Regions from separate parts of the Homo sapiens genome. Here region 2 is linked to region 1. Evidence: fine-mapped expression QTL. A gene starts in region 1. The other region holds a variant in brackets. All regions are shown on one strand. Distances are between the middles of the regions. Region 1 holds the start of SPMAP2 (sperm microtubule associated protein 2). Region 2 overlaps C2CD4C (C2 calcium dependent domain containing 4C).

Region 1 (10,462 bases):
ATCAATCACCACGATTCTGCTCCACCTCCTACATCTGCTCATCACCACGGTTCTGCTCCACCTCCTACATCTGCTTATCAATCACCACGATTCTGCTCCACCTCCTACATCTGCTCATCACCACGGTTCTGCCCCACCCCCTACATCTGCTCATCACCACGGTTCTGCTCCACCTCCTACATCTGCTTATCAATCACCACGGTTCTGCTCCACCTCCTACATCTGCTCATCAATCACCACGGTTCTGCCCCACGTCCTACATCTGCTCATCACCAGGGTTCTGCTCTTTTTTTTTTTTTTTGAGAGGAGTCTCACTCTGTAACCCAGGCCGCAGTGCAGTGGCAGGATCTTGGCTCACTGCAAACTCCGCCTCCTGGGTTCAAGTCATTCTCCTGCCTCAGCCTCCTAAGTAGCTGAGATTACAGACGCCCGCCACCACGCCCAGCTAAGTTTTTGTATTTTTAGTAGAGACGGGGTTCACCATGCTGGCCAGGATGGTCTCTATCTCTTGGCGTTGTGATCCGCCTGCCTTGGCCTCCCAAAGTGCTGGGATTACAGGCGTGAGTCACCGCACCCAGCCAGCACTCATCTATTTTCTTATTCATTTATAGGAGCTATTTATTCATGGTGGGTACTAATCAATTATAGATGTGACAGATGCTGCATTCCCATTCGTGGCTTCTGTTTCCACTTTTTTGAGGAGTCCTGAACATGAGGCTTCAGTTTAATATGGCCGACTTATTGGTCGTGTATGATTAGCACTCTACATGTCTTGTTAAAAAAATTACTCCCTACATGGAGCGCAAAAGCATGGTCACATTCATTTTTTTCTGTAAGTTTTGAAGTTGTGTTTCAGCTTTCACGTATCCACTGAGGGCTGTTGTGTGTGGTATGAGGTAGGTGTCACAGAAGGAATAGTGATCCCCAACGGTGTCCACATCCTCGTCCCTGGAACCTGGTGTGAAACTGGTGATATGGATGGGAGTTACCCAACGCAACAGTCGAGAGACCAGGTAAAAAGCATTCAGATGCACGCGCCTGCCCAGGACGGCGTCACAGGCCAGCGCCCGAAACCGCCTGCCGTGACCCTAAAGCCAATTTGACCTGGGAGCTGTGGAGGTGACCTCAGCTAAATGAAGACGCCTTCTGCCGCCACCTCCCTCCCAGTCACAGCTCACCAGGTCCCTTCTGCCCCCACCTCCCTCCCAGTCACAGCTCACCAGCTCCCAAAGCTTCCAGTTCTTGCGAGCTTTCTTTCGAAATGATTCGCAACATTGTTCCTTCTAGTAAAAGCCCCAACCTGCTGCAGATATACCGAAGACCTCCCGGTCTGTGTACAGGCCCGAAATTGCAATTCTGTTTTTTTTGGTTTTTTTTTGTTTGTTTTTTGTTTTGAGACGGAGTCTCGCCCTGTCGCCCAGGCTGGGGTGCAGAGTGGCGTGATCTCGGCTCACTGCAACCTCCACCTCCCAGATTCACACCATTCTCCTGCCTCAGCCTCCCGAGTAGCTGGGACTACAGGCGCCCGCCACCACGCCCGGCTAATTTTTGTATTTTTAGTAGAGACGGGGTTTCACCGTGTTAGCCAGGATGGTCTCGATCTCCTGACGTCATGATCCGCTCGCCTCAGCCTCCCAAAGTGCTGGGATGACAGGCATGAGCCACCGCGCCAGGTCTCAATTCTGTTTTTATGTATTTTCCCAAACAAAATGTCTTACGTAAAAATGCCTCTCTATGTGCTCGTTTGAGTTTGACACTGGGAGCATGTTATTTTATGTGGCAAAATGGACTTCGCAGGTGGGACTGGGGTTGCAGACGTGGAGGGTCAGAGCACCTGGCTTATCCAGGCTGACCTTCAATCACCTGTTTCCGTAATAACCAAACGGGTTTCCCAGCCCTGCTCAGAGATGAGTGCCAGTGGAGCATCCATGTGAGGGGGCTTGACTGGCCGTTGCTGGCTTTGAAAATGGAGCGAGGGGCCAGGACTGAGAAGAGCGGTGGCCTCTGGGTGCTGGGGGGCCCCCAGCTGACACACACAGCAACGCTGGGAAGGGCCCCCGGCTGACACACACAGCAAGAACGCAGATCTCAGTCCTACGACCACAAGGCACTGAATTCTGTGGCCACCAAATGAGCAGGAGACGGGCCTTCCTCTGAAGGCTGCAGGAACCAGCCCTGCCCACACCGTGGCTTGAGTCCAGTGAGATCCATGTTGGGCTTCTGAGCCCAGGGCGGCCAGGTAATCGCTCAGTGTTGCTGGAGCCTCTGCTTGTGATATGTGTTAAGGCGGCCACAGCAGAGAGGAACACAGTAGGGACCTGGTTTATTTTCTGCCAGGCGGACGCCCCAGGTCCGGGCAGTCAGAACCCCACACATCCCACAGCCCGGTCCCCGTCCCCCTCTATTTTCTGCTCAAAGCAACATCACACAACATTCAGAAATCATGCACTTCCTTGGCTGTGAACGTCTTGCTTTTCCACAGGATGTTGGAGCAGACGTGGACCCTCCAACTCTCCCCCGAGTGCGGGCAGAGTTCTGCTGTCCCCGCGCGCTCCTGAGCTCCTCCGGCTCCTGCCGTAGAGACATCCAGCCCTGACTCCCCCGAGAAGGTGCCGGGTGCAGCTCCACCAGCCGCGTGGCCCTGGGAGCTTCCCCATGACCCTGGAGCGCTCATCTGCCTCTCCTCTCCACAACGGGCTGCCATGAGGGCTAAACGCGCTGCAGCCTGGGTGCTGCCTGGGTGCTGAGAGCCGGAGGCTGCCAGACCCCCAACCGCGCCTCCCTGGAGTAGGGTTAGGGAGCAGCCTCGGGGTGCGGCGCCCTGCTCTGAACGAGGTCTCCTGGAAACACTGCAGTGGCCACAGGCCCTCCAGCGGCAACAATGCCTAACTCATCTCTTTGTGAAAGGCACCCGCAGATCTTGATCCAGTTTAACTTAAGAGAGAAAAGTAAATCATTGAGTGCAAGGTAAGGGTTTACGAGACTTCCGGCCAAGAAAGGGGATTTTCCCATGGCCTCCTTGATGGGACCGGATCCTCCCCGGGGCCCTTCTGCCTGGAGTCCTCCGAGAGACCCCTTTCCTGACAGAGGTGGTGGTGAGGCTGCGTCTGGGAGCAGAGCATCAGGGAGATGGGATGGGAGCTGGAGAGGGCTTTGTGTGTGTCGATGAACTGGGTCTCTTGCGTGCCGAGTGGTCACCATGCCCGGAGGGCCGGCCCCACGCTGGTGGCAGGGGTGAGGGACAGAGCAGTCCTCGGGGTGGGCTAGCACTGGGTGGGGGTAGGGGTGGGGGTCCTAGGCCTGGGAGCCCAGAAAGGGGAGGGATGGTCAGGGACTCTCCCTGCGTGGGGGACCGACAGGCTTGAGTCTTCAATGATGAGTAGAAAACCACCAAGCACAGAAGGGTGAAAGGCTGGGTGGGGGCACACAGCACAGAGGGGGAGAGGCTGGGTGGGGCACAGAGGGGGAGAGGCTGGGTGGGGCACAGAGGGGGAGAGGCTGGGTGGGGCACAGAGGGGGAGAGGCTGGGTGGGGCACAGAGGGGGAGAGGCTGGGTGGGGGCACAGAGGGGGAGAGGCTGGGTGGGGGCACAGAGGGGGAGAGGCTGGGTGGGGCACAGAGGGGGAGAGGCTGGGTGGGGCACAGGGGGGAGAGGCTGGGTGGGGCACAGAGGGGGAGAGGCTGGGTGGGGCACAGAGGGGGAGAGGCTGGGTGGGGCACAGGGGGGAGAGGCTGGGTGGGGGCACAGAGGGGGAGAGGCTGGGTGGGGCACAGGGGGGGGAGAGGCTGGGTGGGGCACAGAGGGGGAGAGGCTGGGTGGGGCACAGAGGGGGAGAGGCTGGGTGGGGCACAGGGGGGAGAGGCTGGGTGGGGCACAGAGGGGGAGAGGCTGGGTGGGGCACAGAGGGGGAGAGGCTGGGTGGGGGCACAGAGGGGGAGAGGCTGGGTGGGGCACAGGGGGGAGAGGCTGGGTGGGGCACAGGGGGGAGAGGCTGGGTGGGGCACAGAGGGGGAGAGGCTGGGTGGGGCACAGAGGGGGAGAGGCTGGGTGGGGGCACAGAGGGGGAGAGGCTGGGTGGGGCACAGGGGGGAGAGGCTGGGTGGGGCACACGGGGGAGAGGCTGGGTGGGGCACAGAGGGGGAGAGGCTGGGTGGGGCACAGAGGGGGAGAGGCTGGGTGGGGGCACAGAGGGGGAGAGGCTGGGTGGAGGCACGGGGGGGGAGAGGCTGGGTGGGGCACGGAGGGGGAGAGGCTGGGTGGGGCACGGAGGGGGAGAGGCTGGGTGGGGGCACAGAGGGGGAGAGGCTGGGTGGGGCACAGAGGGGGAGAGGCTGGGTGGGGCACACAGGGGGAGAGGCTGGGTGGGGCACAGAGGGGGAGAGGCTGGAAATTCAGCTCCTTTGGCGACGTACGAGGAATTCCTGAAGGCAGCAGCCTGGGGAATACTCCAGTTATAACCATTATTTTGTTGTGAGGGTTGGAACAGCCTATTTTGAAGTTATTTCTCATGAGAGGTTGGGGCTGGAAGCGTCTGTATCACCTAGGGTGCAGTTTTAGCTGCTAGGAATTGGAAACCAAGCCAAAACGACTTAGTACTAAGGAAACTTACTGTTTCAAGTAACAAGAAGCCTGGACACAGAGTGGATTCCAAGGCTGCTAAGTTCAGAGGCTCGACAGCCACATCAAAGGCCCACCTTTCAGTTCATCTGCCCTCAGATGGCAGGCCTCATGGTCACAAGAAGGCTGCCTGGGCTCTGGACATTACCGACGGGCCCCACAGGGACAGGAACAGGAGACGCGGTCTCTTCCTTGTGTCTCCTTTTGAGAGAGGGAATCCATAGCTAGATGCCCCTGCAGGTTCCCGTCAGGTCTCCTTCCTAAACCAATCCTGGGAGGTCCTGAGTGAGCCGTGACCACCAGGACTGAGTCCTGATCCCAGCGCAAGCCCAGGTGACCAGCATTGGAGACGGCGCACGGGTTAGAATGTGGACCGTGGGGAATGTGACGGACGCTCTCCTGTTGCCGCGGCCACCACAGACACATTTGGGTGCCGGGAGAGTGAGGCCGCGGGGGCTGGGAAGGGACCGGTGTATGGGGGACAGCAGGCGAAGGTCACTCGGGAACCAGCCCAGCTCTGAGGCTGCGGGCAGGTCGGAAAGGGAGCAGGACGGCGACCCCCGTGGCCTCCAGAGCTCTGTGTACGAGAGCCGGCGGGTCACAGACCCCGAACGCCAGGACCTGGACAATGCAGAGCTGGGACCAGAAGACCCAGAAGAGGAGCTTCCCCCCGAGGAGGTGGCCGGGGAGGAGTTCCCGGAGACCCTGGATCCCAAAGAGGCACTTTCTGAGTTGGAGAGAGTCCTGGACAAGGACTTGGAAGAGGACATTCCTGAAATCAGGTGGGCACCGGGGAACGGGCCTGCCTGGGTGCGGTGGGGTAGGGCTCAGCCCCTGGCAGTGGGGGGAGGGCAGCAGCCCCCTGGGCGGGCGAAAGGGTCGTAACCGGCCACCGGCCTGGCTCGCTGCTCCCGAGGGGCCCGGCCCTGCCGAGTCAGCCTAGGTGTGGGCTTGGTCGGTTGGCGGCCAGCACCCCTCACTGGGCCCTGAGGCAGACACCAGCAGACGCTCCCCTATCTGGTGGCAGGAGGAGGAGTAAACAGCGCTGAGTTTGGAGTCAGGCAGACTGAGTTCAGGTGCCCAGAGTTCAGAGTTTAGCGAGTGATGGCCTCAAGTCAGACAGAGAGAATAAGAAATGGGAAAAAAAAAGCCTCCCAACTCAAAAGTTGAAACCATTCTAAGCACCACACGTGGCTAAAAGGTTTTAAATGGTCGGGAGGAACACGTTCTGGGTGAACTGACGCTTCGGCCAATCAGCACTGGGGGCGCTGATTTTGGGCAGTTGCTGGAGTGTCCCCAGCAAGGCGCGCACTCTACATACCTCTGGGACTCGGCTCCCGTCCTCCCTGCAGCGTGGTCCCTGCACGTGCCCGACCTGCCCCCTTCTCACCGTGGTTTCCGTGCCGCCCAGGGAGGTTTGCCGCCCAAGAACAAAGTGGCTGCCCTGCCCTCATGGGGCTCTGCCAACCTGCAGAGAAAACAGCAGGAGTGTGAGGGGATTCTGGGGAGAACGTGGGAGCCAGCAGCTGCATCAAGCAAGGACAGGGCAGATATCCTGGCATTTGGCATCTTCACCTGCTGCCTGTTTCCCTCCCACAGTCTGTGAGCTTTCTGGGAGGCAGGAGCCGCTCTCTTTAGAGGGTGGTTGCCCCTCTGGGGCCTGGCATACAGTAAGCACTTGACAGATGTCTGTGAGATGAGTAAACACTACCTTAGTACTCACCAAAACAGCCCCGCCAGGTGGGAGCTGGTCTCACCTCCAATTCACAGAGGAGGAAGCTGAGGACCAGGGGAGACAGGTGACCTGGACGGGTCTTCCATCCAGCGAGCAGTGGAGCTGCGGTTGGTCCAGGCCTTCGTGGTGCCAAAGTCCTCCCTCAGAGACCCCTCGAGGGAAAGGAGAGGCGGGTGGGCAGGGTGAGTGCAGACAAAAGGCGCTTGAGCAAGACCCACGCTTCTCTGGGCTCCCAAACGCATCGGGGCGGGAAAGCAGCTCCAACTTCAACGTGGAATTCTCCCAAAGCCGGCTGTCCATCAGCCAGAAGCTCCCCAGCACCACCATGACCAAAGCAAGGAAGAGGAGGAGGCGGAGGAGGCTCATGGAGCTGGCAGAGCCCAAGATAAACTGGCAAGTCCTGAAAGACAGGTGAGGACACGCCAGACCACGGCCTCGTAGGGGCAGCGTGGGCGGCTTTCTCTGCACCCTTCCCGGGCTCCTCCTGTCCCCACTGCTCGGCTCCCCTCCCCCAGCTGCCACCACATCCAGCAAACTTAGGGTAGGTGGGGTTGGCCAGTTAAGGAGGTGGCCAGACACTGGGAGTGGCTAGGGAACGGTGGCCCTCTGGGCGGTGGCCAAAGGAGAGTGAGGAGTTTGGGAGCAAACGGGAGACCCAGGGCAAGAGGCAGTGGGGCTCGGACCCTGTCTCCTCGCAGGAAGGGACGCTGTGGTAAGGGGTATGCCTGGATCTCCCCATGTAAGATGAGCTTGCACTTCTGTCTCTGCTGGTAAGTCCAGGGCTGTCTCCGCCGTGTGCCTATGCTGGGGGACACGTGTCAGGTTCCAGGGGACCCCTTCACTCCAGCCACCCTCCTCTCTCCAGGGAGGAGGATCAGGGAGGGCTCCTCAGATGTGGGGCTCTCCACCCTTGTGACCTGGGTCTGCTCCCAGGAGGTGGCCCTGGGCCCTCTTCTTAGCTATGCTTCTCCCCCAGCTACCTCCTTCTCTGGACATCAGCCTTGCTCACAATAATCCACGCGTCCCGCCGGCCCCCCCACTGTCCTTCTCTGGCCTACCCCCTCTCCCAGCAACTCCACACCCCACCTCGGCCACCCTCCTGGCAGAGACCCAGGCTTGTTTCCGGGCAGGGCCAGGGCTCTCTGCCTCCCTTGCCCTGAGCCGTCCGCTTATTCCAGGCCCTCTGTGTACTGGACCGAGCGGTTCCTTGAGGACACCACCCTCACCATCACAGTGCCCGGTAGGTGGAGCCCGTGCCTGCTGAGACCCCTGCCCCCGGCTGCCGGCCTCCAGGGAACCTGCCCCGCCCCATCTAGATACTTCTGGCCTCCCTTGCCCCATCTCCTCGGAGCCTCTGTCCTCCCCACTGGAGTCTGTCCCCTGAGGAGCTAGAGCTGAGACTGGTCCTGGGGGTGAGGGGCATGGGGAACACTCTCTAGGATAGGGCCAAATCGGGGCAAGAATTTACAAAAAGACCCTTTGCTTTCCCTTCCACAATGATTTCCATGCTTTTCTTGAGAGGAATTTGGTATTGAGGTATCATAGATACCTTCAAATGAGACACTTCGAGAGTTCCCCATAGAGGAGAATAACAGTCCAGTTCTCTCCTGTGCTGTTCTTGACTTTAGACCTACAGTCATCACTAGGCCCCTGGAAACCCCAGGCTTGTACTAACTTCAGAACAAAACCCATTTTCCCAGCCTGTGGGTCCCTGGATCTGTATTGAGCCCCGTTGAGGAGCCACGGTGCTGGGCTGCTGTTCCAGCCCTGCCACTCCCATCCGGTGTCCGAGAAAGGACCTTCAAGCCTCTGAGCCCATTGTCCCTAAATCAGGGACAGCAAATCTTCTCTCTGCAGGGTGTCTGGCCCCCAGTTGTCTCTGCCCACAGTTCTTCCAATTCAGCCTCCTGCCCAAGCTCATGAAAAGCTGAATTCCGCATGCAGAAGCCCCTGGGAACTGCAGGGTGTTGACACTGGGGTTCACTGACTCCGTTTCCCATTTTGCATAGCGGTGTCCCGCCGCGTGGAGGAACTGTCTCGGCCCAAGAGATTCTACCTGGAATATTACAACAACAACAGGTGGGGGAAGGAGGGCTGGGTGGCTACTCAGAAGGCAGAGTTTGGCAGAAATGCCTTATTCTCGCCTGACAGGATGCTGTGTGGGAAAGGGTCCAGGTCCTAGCCCTAGACAGCTGGTGTTCAGACGGGGCTGGCCTGCTTCCCAGCCCACATCCCCAGCAGGCTGCTTCCCAGTCCACATCCCCAGCAGGCTGCTTGGCCCCGTGCAACTGCATTGCCAGCTGTGGAATGGTGGTGGAGGGCACCCGTGAACGGGGATTTGCACAGCGCCTGACACAGTGCGTGCTCAGATGTTATCACCATTGTGACTGTATTTTGTTTACTCAAAAAAGGTGGAAATTCTAAGACACATTAGTATTTTATGTACAAAATTCTTTCTTACCACTTACAGCCCCTGTGCTTGTTAAAAGTGATCTTTAGTTATTTAGACACAACATATAATTACCCATCTTTTATGCAGCGTATGAAGGAAAGCACAGCTGAAGTAGACAGCGGAAGTGTGTCCAACTGTTTTGAACCACTTCTGACACAGACGTTGATGTGGGTGTCGCACACACTGTCCTCACGCCTCTGTGCACTTTTTAACGCCAAATCATACTGTGACCTGAAGACAATTTAAACTGTAATTAAACTTAACTCCTGTAGAAGCAGCAGTGCAGATCACGTGAACAGCACACACAGATGCAGCCAGATGTAGCCAGGACACTTCCGCCATCTGGCTGGCAGCACTCGTAAGCTGCATCCTAACCTCAGACCTGTTCAATGTGGAGACCTTGCCTTAGAATCAATGAAATGCGGCTTTATTTCCGAGCAGAGGCATAGCTGAGACCTGATTTCAGAAGGCACAGCCCCGGGAGCTCAGCTGTCCTTCGCTTTCCCCAGCTTTGCAACCTCAGGACAGACACTTTCATCCCTTGGGTCCAAGTGCTCACGCCAGGCTCTTGATGATGGGGGTGTGTAGAGAAGGCCTGGGAGGAGCTGCCGTCCCAGAAGGGAATGGAGAAGGCCTGGACCTGAGGGTGGACGTTGCACATTGAGCAGAGACAACCCTGGGAGATGGTAGCTCTGTACTTGAGAACTCTTAGAAATTCTTTACGAATCCCTGTTTGGAGACGCTTTCAAAACTCACCACTCTCCCAGGCTCTCTTAACCCCAGAAACAGAGGAGGAGCTGGGAAAGACAGACAGACACATATGGAGGAGCTGGGAAAGACAGACAGACACATACACACACACACACACACACACACACACACACACACCCCCACCCCCGGCCGAGCTGCTGGTCTAAAATGGGGACCTCCCCCAGGACGACTCCTGTCTGGCCCATTCCTCGGTCCTCCCTGGAATACAGAGCGTCGAGTCGCCTGAAGGAACTGGCCGCCCCGAAGATTCGTGATAACTTCTGGAGCATGCCCATGTCTGAGGTGGGTGCCCCGTGCCCCCCGCGACTCACCCCCGCCAGGCGGGCTGGGACCCGGCAGAGAGTGAAAGAGGCTTTGCGTTTGGGAGTCAGGGGAGGAGGAGAAGCTGCACAGGGCGGCTGCCTTTGTCTGGGAGCAGCTTTCTTTTGATCTCTCACTGTCTTCAGAGCCGCCCAGGGGTCATCCTTCCCTGCGCTTCAGTCCGGGTGGATCCCAAAGCTTCCAGCTCACACTCAGGAATTAGAACAGTCTTATCTCAGGTGTTCAGAAAGCGCTCATCTCTCGCCCCAGCTCAGGCCGGACTCCTGGCCACCGGCAACCACTGACCTCGCTCTACGCCCTGTACCTTTTGCTTTTCCGAAAGTCTGAACCCCGCAGCCTGCGGGCTTGACCCGGCTTCTGCCGCCCCCCGCCCTGCATCTGAGACTCTCGCGTGCGTCGGTAGTTTATTCCTTGTCGTCGCCGGTTCAATTCCAGAATTTGCCGATCCAGGCACCCACTGAAGGGTATTTGGGTGGCTTCCAGTTTAGGACTGTTACGATAAAACTGATGTGAATACGCCGGGCGCGGTGGCTCACGCCTGTCATCCCAGCACTTTGGAAGGCTG
Region 2 (10,462 bases), 25 kb before region 1:
CTGCAAGGCTTCCATTGTGTGGTTATGTGGGTCCTTGAATGATTTTGGGGAGGTTTCCAGCTCAGAATGATGCAGAAATGATAAGACTCAAAGCAGGGGCCAGGCCAGGCCAGTGCCTTCGCCTCTCCCGGCTGCTGGTGGGCACGGAGGAACCAGGGCACATCTGTGGTACCCAGGGACGTCCCTTGTCAGCCCGTTTGCCACACATTGTTCCTCTTGTCCAGGGGAGGGTGGAGGAGCTGCTTCCCAGGACTGGAGGAGCAGCTGGGCCCCTGCTGCACGTCCGGTGGGACACACCTGTGAGCCCTCCAGAGGGAGAGTGCAGGCCCCTTCTGAGCCTGGTGTTGCAGGGCTCCGCTCTCTCCCGGAAGCCAGGGCACCCAGGGCGGAGGCTCCTCAGGCCGGGGAGGCGGGGAGGGTGCCCTGCATGGAGAGAGACGCCGGCGCTCCCCGCCTTCTCTGATGCTCACCCCTCCCAGGCCCTGTTCTCCCTGGGGTCCCCCGTTTAGTAGCCCCCCTGCACTCTTTGATATCTTAGTGTCTGAGGTTGACTGTGGGTAAATCTTTAAGACACTCCCCAGCTGTGTTTGTTTATAAATGCTGTTTATAGTGCAATAAAGGTGTTTCGGGAATACGGGGGTGGAGGTTGGCTTCCCTGGCTGTTTAATAACGAGAGAGTTCTGCGGTGAACTCCAGGGAGGAAGGAGAAGAGGATTCCAGATTGGCAAGGTCCTTTCCACTGCCCTCCGCATTCTCCTGCCCCGGGTGGAGGCAGGCGGGGGCAGGAGCCCAGCCCCTGATAAACCACCTCCCTTGGAGCGGCAGGTCTGGGTTCTGCTTCACGGTTCCAGCTCTTGACTACATGGATGTCAGGAAACAGGACTCGGACCCCACACGGTCCCTACAGGGTGGGTCCCGCCTCCCCTCAGAACCTTCAGACAGGACCCTGTCTCCACAGACCCCCTCTAGACACAGCCCCGTATCCCCCTCACACCCCTCAGGGCAGGACCCCGTTCCCCCCACACCCCTCAGGGCAGGACCCCGTTCCCCTCACACCCCTCAGGGCAGGACCCCATCCCCCCTCCACACCCCTCAGGGCAGGACCCCGTTCCCCCCACACCCCTCAGGGCAGGACCCCGTTCCCCCCACACCCCTCAGGGCAGGACCCCGTCCCCCCCCCACACCCCTCGGGACAGGACCCCGTCCCCCCCTCACACCCCTCAGGGCAGGACCCCGTCCCCCCCTCACACCCCTCAGGGCAGGACCCCGTCCCCCCTCCACACCCCTCAGGGCAGGACCCCATCCCCCCTCCACACCCCTCAGGGCAGGACCCCGTTCCCCCCACACCCCTCAGGGCAGGACCCCGTTCCCCCCTCCACACCCCTCGGGGCAGGACCCGTCCCCCCCTCAGACCCCTCAGGGCAGGACCCCATCCCCCCTCCACACCCCTCAGGGCAGGACCCGTCTCCCCCTCAGACCCCTCAGGGCAGGACCCCGTCCCCCCCACACCCCTCAGGGCAGGACCCCGTCCCCCCCACACCCCTCAGGGCAGGACCCCGTCCCCCCCACACCCCTCAGGGCAGGACCCCGTGCCCCCCCCACACCCCTCAGGGCAGGACCCCGTCCCCCCCCCACACCCCTCAGGGCAGGACCCCGTCCCCCCCACACCCCTCAGGGCAGGACCCCGTCCCCCCCTCAGACCCCTCAGGGCAGGACCCCGTCCCCCCCCCACACCCCTCAGGGCAGGACCCCGTCCCCCCCACACCCCCTCAGGGCAGGACCCCGTCCCCCCCTCAGACCCCTCAGGACAGGACCCGTCCCCCCCACACCCCTCAGGGCAGGACCCCGTCCCCCCCACACCCCTCAGGGCAGGACCCCGTCCCCCCCCCACACCCCTCAGGGCAGGACCCCGTCCCCCCCACACCCCTCAGGGCAGGACCCCGTCCCCCCCACACCCCTCAGGGCAGGACCCCGTCCCCCCCTCAGACCCCTCGGGGCAGGACCCCGTCCCCCCCACACCCCTCAGGGCAGGACCCCGTCCCCCCCACACCCCTCAGGGCAGGACCCCGTCCCCCCCTCACACCCCTCGGGGCAGGACCCGTCCCTGTGCTCTCAGCCCAGGCTGGGCTGCTCTGTCTCTCCTGCTGCCCATGGGGTCCAGATGTCTCTGCCATCTCAAATCCACCAGGAGCTTTTGGGAATTGGGGTTCAGCGTAGCCCGGCCTCCTGACCGCGGCCTGGTGAGCCCCAGTCAGGGCCTGGGACGGGTTGACAGGGCTACGGGCGCCTTGTAGCCTCTTCAGCCCCAGCCACTCATCGCTAGGCTGCACGGGTGTGTGCGTGTGCGTGCCAGGTAGGTGCACACACGTCGCCATGTGCTTCCGCATGTGTGTGCAGTGTGACTGCGTGTGCCGTTACCGTGCTCATCTGTTGGGCGTATGTGACAGTGCCAGGTGAGCGCCTGCAGGCACTCGAGTATAGCTGCCTGTGTGCTGGCGTGTGCACGTGTAAGCACGTGAGCCGTGTATGCATGTGTGACCCTGTGTGCGCTTGTGTGTGCCTGTGTCGCTGCTGGTGTGCACTTGTGTGTGCGTTTGTGTGTGCTGGTGTCTGGGAGCTGCAGCTGCCCATGCCCTCCCCCCTCCACTTCCAAGTGGGCGTCATCCAGGGATTCTGCGCCTGCGTGGTGTCTCGCCCTGCCTCAGGTCTTGGCCCACTGCCCTTCAGGTCAGCCCCCACCCCGGGGGAGTCAGATGCCCTTGTTCCCTCCTGGCTGTGGCCGTTTGCTGCCTTGTGATGTTGATCCTGAGCAGAACGAATCTACTGTTTGCACCTCCAGCATCCCTGGCGCCACAGAGCGCTCGGCCCCAGTGGGTGCTGTGCGGTGAAGGAGGCAGGCACACCTGCCAGCAGTCTCTCCTTTCAGACTGGCGGCCATCCTGAGTCTCCCGACCCTCAGGAAGGCCATGGGCACCACAAGCGGGGGGCACCCCGTTTGGTGCAAATTACAAAAAGATGCCCCTTCTTCAGAGGGGAGCCATCATAGGGAACAACAGATGAAGAGTCAGAAGCCTGGAGACATTGCGGACACCTGGATCCAGCTATGCCTGAAGTCCATAACTGCGCACCATTTCAGCTCAGAGGGTGGGCCGGTAAAGTGCCTTGTTTGCTCAAGCCGGCTTGTTTCAGTTTTTTTGTTTTGTTTTGTTTGTTTGTTTTTTGGAGACGGAGTCTTGCTGTGTCGCCCAGGCTGGAGTACAGAGGTGCAGTCTCGGCTCACTGTAGCCTCTTCTTCCAGGGTTCAAGCGATTCTCCTGCCCCAGCCTCCCAAATAGCTGAGATTACAGGCGCCCGCCACCACACCCAGCTAGTTTTTTGTATTTTTAGTAGAGACGGGGTTTCACCAAGTTGGCCAGGCTCGTCTCAAATTCCTGACCTCAGGTGATACGCCTGCCTCGGCCTCCCAAAGTGCTGGGATTACAGGCGTCAGCCACCACGTCCGGCTGATTCATTTTTTAAGGTGACAGAACACTGATCCAGTGGGTCTCTCCCATCCGAGGAGGAGGAGTAACACCTTCCCAGGGCCCCTGCCTTGCGGCCTGTCCTCTCTGGGGCCTTGAACCTCTAACCCTGACGTGTGTGGGGAGCCGCAGGGTGAGTTTCAAGCCCCACCTTCCACGTGGGGTGTGGCCCGGGGCAGTGCGTGGCTTCTCTGGGTCTCAGGCTCCCGAGGCCGAAGGCTCTGTCTGTGATGAGCCCTGGCGGCTTGTGTGCAGTAGAGCTCAATCCACAGGCTCGCCGGGCGGAAGCCGGCACAAAATAGCGACGATAATTAATATAATCACATCAGGGCCATAATTACAGGCGGCCTCAGACCCACCCAGGCGGGGGCTCCCTCGGCCTCTCTCTGCGGCACCCACCGCCCCAGTGCCGGATTCGATTAAGCTTTTGTTTTCTTCTCAGCTCCTGGGGGTGGGAGGGAGGGGCTGCCCACGGCCAGTTCCGCTGACAGGAGGAGAAAAATGACTTCAATAAAAAGGAGGAGGCGGACGCCGACCCGCACACATGCTCCTCCCACGAGGGCGGGCCATTCCCGCGGGCCGGCGCCTGAGCCTCAGTTTACCCTACTGTACAGTGACGTGGTCCCAGAGCCTCTCTCCAGGGTCACACGCAGGGCAGGGCCTGTTGATTAAGCGCATCGTGGGTGGGTGGGCGGGAGGACCCGCTGAATCCTCAGCAAGACGCTGCCTACTGCCATCCACAGATGGAAACACCGAGGCACAGAAGGCAAAGGGGCCTGCGCACACCTCCCAGCTGACAGGACAGGAATTCGGACCAGGGCTGGACCCACGCTGCCCTTCCTGGGTGGGACTGGACACCTGCTTGCATGGCCGGCCCCTGCCATCTGGCAGAGAGGGCCCCAGGGAGCTGTGCTCTGCCAGCCATGGGTCAGAATCCTGACAAGTCCCTCCGTTCTCTGTGACTCGGTTTCCTCTGCAGCACCCTGTACCCTCCCTGCCTGCTGGTGGGGCTGGAGTGGGCACGGACCCAGCACCCGTGGCACCCAGTCCTGGTCACCGGCTGAGCCCTGCTGCGGTGCCACGGATGAGACCCGCACCTTCCCCCGTGGGGTGAGGAATCCTCTC[G/A]TGCGGGGTGAGGTCTGGGCTTTGCCTTGGCTTTGGGAGGTGATTTCTGCCCTGCCTGAGGGGAGCGTCTTGGTCTGGGGTAGGGAGGGTCACACCAGCAAGACCAACCGTGGGACTTGGGAGCGCCTTGGGTCTCACAGCGTCAGACACCCTTGGAGTTCGAGGGCAACCCCGTGGCAAGCAATCAGTCAATCAAGCCCCCACGAGGGATCCCTCGCAGAGCTCTGGGCGCCTAGGCTGCCGTGCCCTTTCCTGGTGGTCCGTGCGCCCTGTGAGTGAGCAGTTCCCGGCTTCCCCGGACAGGACCACGGGGCTTCTCCGGGACGCTGCCTCATGTGCTCTTCCCCAGCCCACGGCACCTGCACCCCGGCACTGTGACAAACCCTACCTGTGACGAGGACAGCTTGCTGGGAGTTCCGTGCGTCCTCGCAAATCATCAAGCGTGAGGGTGAGCCTGGGAACCCCTGGAAGAGTGAGGGTGAGCCTGGGAACCCCTGGAAGAGTGAGGGTGGGCCTGGGGACCCCTGGAAGAGTGAGGGTGGGCCTGGGAACCCTGGAAGAGTGAGGGTGGGCCTGGGAACCCTGGAAGAGTGAGGGTGGGCCTGGGAACCGCTGGAAGAGTGAGGGTGGGCCTGGGGACCCCTGGAAGAGTGAGGGTGGGCCTGGGGACCCCTGGAAGAGTGAGGGTGGGCCTGGGAACCCTGGAAGAGTGAGGGTGGGCCTGGGAACCCCTGCAAGAGTGAGGGTGGGCCTGGGAACCCCTGCAAGAGTGAGGGTGGGCCTGGGAACCCTGGAAGAGTGAGGGTGGGCCTGGGAACCCTGGAAGAGTGAGGGTGGGCCTGGGAACCCTGGAAGAGTGAGGGTGGGCCTGGGGACCCCTGGAAGAGTGAGGGTGGGCCTGGGGACCCCTGGAAGAGTGAGGGTGGGCCTGGGGACCCCTGGAAGAGTGAGGGTGGGCCTGGGAACCCCTGCAAGAGTGAGGGTGGGCCTGGGAACCCCTGGAAGAGTGAGGGTGGGCCTGGGGACCCCTGGAAGAGTGAGGGTGGGCCTGGGAACCCTGGAAGAGTGAGGGTGGGCCTGGGAACCCTGGAAGAGTGAGGGTGGGCCTGGGGACCCCTGGAAGAGTGAGGGTGGGCCTGGGGACCCCTGGAAGAGTGAGGGTGGGCCTGGGGACCCCTGGAAGAGTGAGGGTGGGCCTGGGAACCCCTGCAAGAGTGAGGGTGGGCCTGGGAACCCCTGGAAGAGTGAGGGTGGGCCTGGGGACCCCTGGAAGAGTGAGGGTGGGCCTGGGAACCCTGGAAGAGTGAGGGTGGGCCTGGGAACCCTGGAAGAGTGAGGGTGGGCCTGGGAACCCTGGAAGAGTGAGGGTGGGCCTGGGAACCCTGGAAGAGTGAGGGTGGGCCTGGGAACCCTGGAAGAGTGAGGGTGGGCCTGGGAACCCTGGAAGAGTGAGGGTGGGCCTGGGGACCCCTGGAAGAGTGAGGGTGGGCCTGGGGACCCCTGGAAGAGTGAGGGTGGGCCTGGGGACCCCTGGAAGAGTGAGGGTGGGCCTGGGAACCCCTGCAAGAGTGAGGGTGGGCCTGGGAACCCCTGGAAGAGTGAGGGTGGGCCTGGGGACCCCTGGAAGAGTGAGGGTGGGCCTGGGAACCCTGGAAGAGTGAGAGTGGGCCTGGGAACCCTGGAAGAGTGAGGGTGGGCCTGGGAACCCTGGAAGAGTGAGGGTGGGCCTGGGGACCCCTGCAAGAGTGAGGGTGGGCCTGGGAACCCCTGGGCTGCCGTTGGGGCTGGAACGGGGGCACTGTTGTTGGGACACTGCCCTCTGACCTTTCAGCGTGGTTCACTCCAATCCCCGGGCCACAGAGTCCTCGTGGCCTCCCTGGGAGTGTGCACCTGCCCGGCCGTGGAGACACATGACCCTTGCCCCCAAGCTCCCCTCTCACCTCCCTAACCCCTTTGCCTGTGGCCCAGGCGGCTCAGAGGCACCCCCCCGCCCACCAGCCACTGTGTCCCCACCCTCCCCTCCCACCTGGGCTCCCCCAGCCAAGCCACAGAATGCTCCTTCCTCATCTCCCAAAGTCACGGGGACAGCTCAGATCAAGGACTGCAGCTCCCACACTGCCAGCCCCTCCCCCTCTCTGAGCCTCAGTTTCCTCCTGTGTAAGTGAGGTGCCCAGTGCACACTGCCCTCTAGGCTTCAGGTGATGGCAACATTGAGCTTTCAAAGCACTCACGCATAAACCTCATTCAGACCACGGGCCACTGTAGGTCAAAGGTGCGTCCGAGTGTTTACTAAGGAACGGCAGGACTGGACTGAGTTTTATACGCAGCAGGAGGAAGGAGGCACCTGCCGCTCAGGGACAAAACTCATCCGCATTTGTCAATCCCAAGCAGCGTCCAACCCCAGAGCCAGGACACTGGCAAGAGTGGAGGGAAGCGTCCACAAAGTGACCCCCGGGTGGCCGGGCTGGTCGAGGCTCTGGAATACAACTGATCCTCTGGGTGATTCGGCCCCTCGGGGACACGGGGCAACGTCTGGGGCTTCTGTGGTTGTCACGACTAGGGGAGCTCCTGGTGTGGAGTGGGCGGAGGCCAGGGACACTGCTCAGCACCCAGCAGTGCCCAGGACGGCCCCACCCCAGGGAATGATCAGCTCTGAGGCCCACCGTGCCGAGGGTCCAGGATCCAAAGAGCAGGCAGTGATGTTTTTACCCCTTTCCAAGTTCTGGATAATTTTCCCAAACCTGAGGATGAAACGAGAGAAGGCACATAAGCTGCCTAGCAAGGTGACTGCACATGGTGAGGGGTCTCACGTGTCGTCTGCACGCGGTGAGGGTCTCACGTGTCGTCTGCACGCGGTGAGGGTCACACGTGTCGTCTGCACGCGGTGAGGGTCACACGTGTCGTCTGCACGCGGTGAGGGGTCACGCGTCGTCTGCACGCGGTGAGGGGTCATGCGTGTTGGCTGTTCCCCTTTCCTTTGGCAAATGTGGACTGAGTGCTGCTGTGCCTTATGCTCGTGTCGGGGATACCACAGCTCCAGGGTGTCCCTGACATGATGTTCCCGGCCCTGCGCTCTCCAGAGCTGAGACTCACCCCATGGAGCAGTGGCCACTGGGCCTGTCCCCTCCAGACTGCTCCGCGCAATACAAAGTGGCAGTGGGTAGCTTCCAAACCCAGGCCATGAAAAGGAGGTGGCCCAGGGAGGCAGGTGCAGCTGGCAGCCCAGGTGGGCCCCAGCCTCCTGGTCTTAGAGCAGACTCCCAGATGTCATGGAGCAGGGGCACCATCCCTGGTCTGCCCGAGTTCCTTCCTGACTGAGGCTTTCTCATCGACAAGCATTGGGGTGGGTGCCTAGTCTGAGTCCTGCAAGGCTTGCCCTTGGAGGACTTCCTGGAAGAGGAGGCCAGAGGACAAAAGGGTTGTGAAGCCCCAGAGCAGAAAGGACTCAGCCCCAAAATTCCAAGGAGGCCTGTGGGTCACAGGACTGTAAGAGGAGTGTGGACTTTATCCTGTGGGCAAAGGGCTTGGATGAACGTTTTAGGATGACCTGAACTGTCTGGAAGGAAGGGGCATGGCCGGGCAGCACAGAAGCCAAGGGGAGGGCAGGGCACTGGTGCTGGGTCTGGATGGGCAAAGGCGGATGCCTGGCACCAGGGTGAGCAGAGAGGAGTAAGACACATTTGGAAGAGACTGAGGCTGCAAATCTTCCAGGATGTGTGAGGACTAGGTGTTCAGGATGGTGGACGGGGGTGAGGGGGTGCGCCGGCCGAGTCCTCTCTGTCAGCGCGTTCACCTACCTGCAAGCCCAGGAGCCTCTGCCTTCCAAACGCACCGGGAACCTTCTCAGCAAGCAGGTGGAGCTGCTGAAGGCAGCAGCACGACACGTCTCTGCCACACTCAGTGGATCACGCGGGGCAGCCCAGGCAGGAGGAATTCAAGAGCAGCCGACATGAACCTACCCGCTGCCAGCAATGGAAGTCAGGATGGGGCCCCCGGGGCAGGGACCAGGAGGGACGAGGGGCCTCTGGGGGCCGTCACAGGTGGCGTTTTCATTGGAGTGGGGGCTGCTATGGTCAGTTTGTTTATAAATGTTCACTGAGCTCATCAGGATCAAGTATCCAGAACACATAAACTATGCATACAACTCAGCAACAAAATGACCAACAACCCCATTAAAAAATAGGCAAAAGACTTCAATGGGCATTTATTGAAGAAGACACACAGCTCGTTTACATCATTCGAAACGTAGAAACAGCCCAAATGTCCATCGGCAGAGAGAGATGAACCACCGTGCGGCATATTCGTAGGCTGGAATAGTAGTCAATCACAAAAAAAATGGAGCACGGCCTTGAAACATGACACTCAGTGAAAAAACTCAGGCCAAAAGGACGCATATTGTCTGCTTATATTTACATGAAATGTCAAATATAGCTAAATCCAGAGGATTTCTTTCTGAGATAAGAAGAATGGTTTGGGGAGCTACACATGGTGGCTTGTACCTACAATCCTAGCAACGTGAGAGGCTGAGGCAGGAGGATCCCTTGAGCCCAGGAATTGGAGGCTGCAGTGAGCTGTGAATATGCCACTGTACTCCAGCCTGGGCCAAAAAGCAAGACACTGACTATTTATTTATTTATTTATTTATTTATTGAGACGGAGTCTCGCTCTGTCCCCCAGGCTGGAGTGCAGTGGCACGATCTTGGCTCACTGCAAGCTCCGCTCCCGGGTTCACACCATTCTCCTGCCTCAGCCTCCCCAGTAGCTGGTACTGCAGGCGCCTGCCACCACGCCTGGCTAATTTTTTTTTGTATTTTTAGTAGAGACGGGGTTTCACTGTGTTAGCCAGGATGGTCTCGATCTCCTGACCTCGTGATCCGCCCGCCTCGGCCTCCCAAAGTGCTGGGATTACAGGCGTGAGCCACCATGCCCGGCCCGACAATTTATTTTAAAAAAATGTTTTGGAGCTTAATAGAAGTTATAGTTGCACAACATTGCGAAGGCACTAAAAGACCCTGAATTGGTCGTGTTAAAGCGGTTAATATTACTTAAGGTGCGGTGGCTCACGCCTGTAATCCCAGCACTGTGGGGGGCCGAGACAGGCAGATCACAAGATCAGGAGATCGAGACCATCCTGGCTAACACGGTGAAACCCCCTCTCTACTAAAATTACAAAAAATTTGCCAGGCGTGGTGGCGGGCGCCTGTAATCCCAGCTACGTGGGAAGCTGAGGCAGGAGAATGGCATGAACCTGGGAGGCAGAGCTTGCAGTGAGCCGAGATCACACCACTGCACTCCAGACTGGGCGACAGAGCGAGACTCCGTCTCAAAAAAAAAAAAAAAAGGGAGTCTCAAAAAAAAAAAAAAAGGTGTCACCGAATGCTCTCACTTGGTGCCCAATCACCCATTCCATTCATCCTTCCCGTCGTCCTTCCCATCAACCTTCTCCATTCATCCTTCCCATCGTCCTTCTCCATTCATCCTTCCCATCATACTTCTCCATTCATCCTTCCCATCATCCTTCCCATTGTCCTTCCCATCATCCTTCCCATCGTCCTTCTCCATTCATCCTTCCTGTCGTCCTTCTCCATTCATCCTTCACATCATCCTTCTCCATTCATCCTTCCCATCATCCTTCTCCATTCATCCTTCCCATCGTCCTTCTCTATTCATCCTTCCCATCGTCCTTCTCCATTCATCCTTCCCATCGTCCTTCTCCATCACCCTTCTCCATCATCCTCCATTATCCTTCCCATCATCCTTCCCATCATCCTTCCCATCAACCTTCCCATCAACCTTCCCCATCATCCTTCCCATCA

What was found. PIP is the estimated chance that this variant, and not a neighbour inherited with it, causes the effect.
Region 2: its variant is fine-mapped to the expression of SPMAP2 in thyroid (GTEx, PIP above 0.99).

The regions. Positions count from the first base shown.
Region 1 is chr19:370,601-381,062 of GRCh38, reverse strand. SPMAP2 (sperm microtubule associated protein 2) reads left to right here and starts at 5,037. Exons shown (of 8, transcript NM_016585.5): 1 at 5,037-5,400; 2 at 6,642-6,764; 3 at 7,052-7,123; 4 at 7,532-7,593; 5 at 8,363-8,432; 6 at 9,741-9,858. The coding sequence starts at 5,093.
Region 2 is chr19:395,615-406,076 of GRCh38, reverse strand. It overlaps C2CD4C (C2 calcium dependent domain containing 4C), which reads left to right. Exons shown (of 2, transcript NM_001136263.2): 2 at 1-632. Among named protein-coding and RNA genes, the nearest start is that of C2CD4C, 8.3 kb to the left of the region's middle. RefSeq lists an enhancer at 6,892-8,091. The variant G/A (reference allele first, on the strand shown) is at 4,647.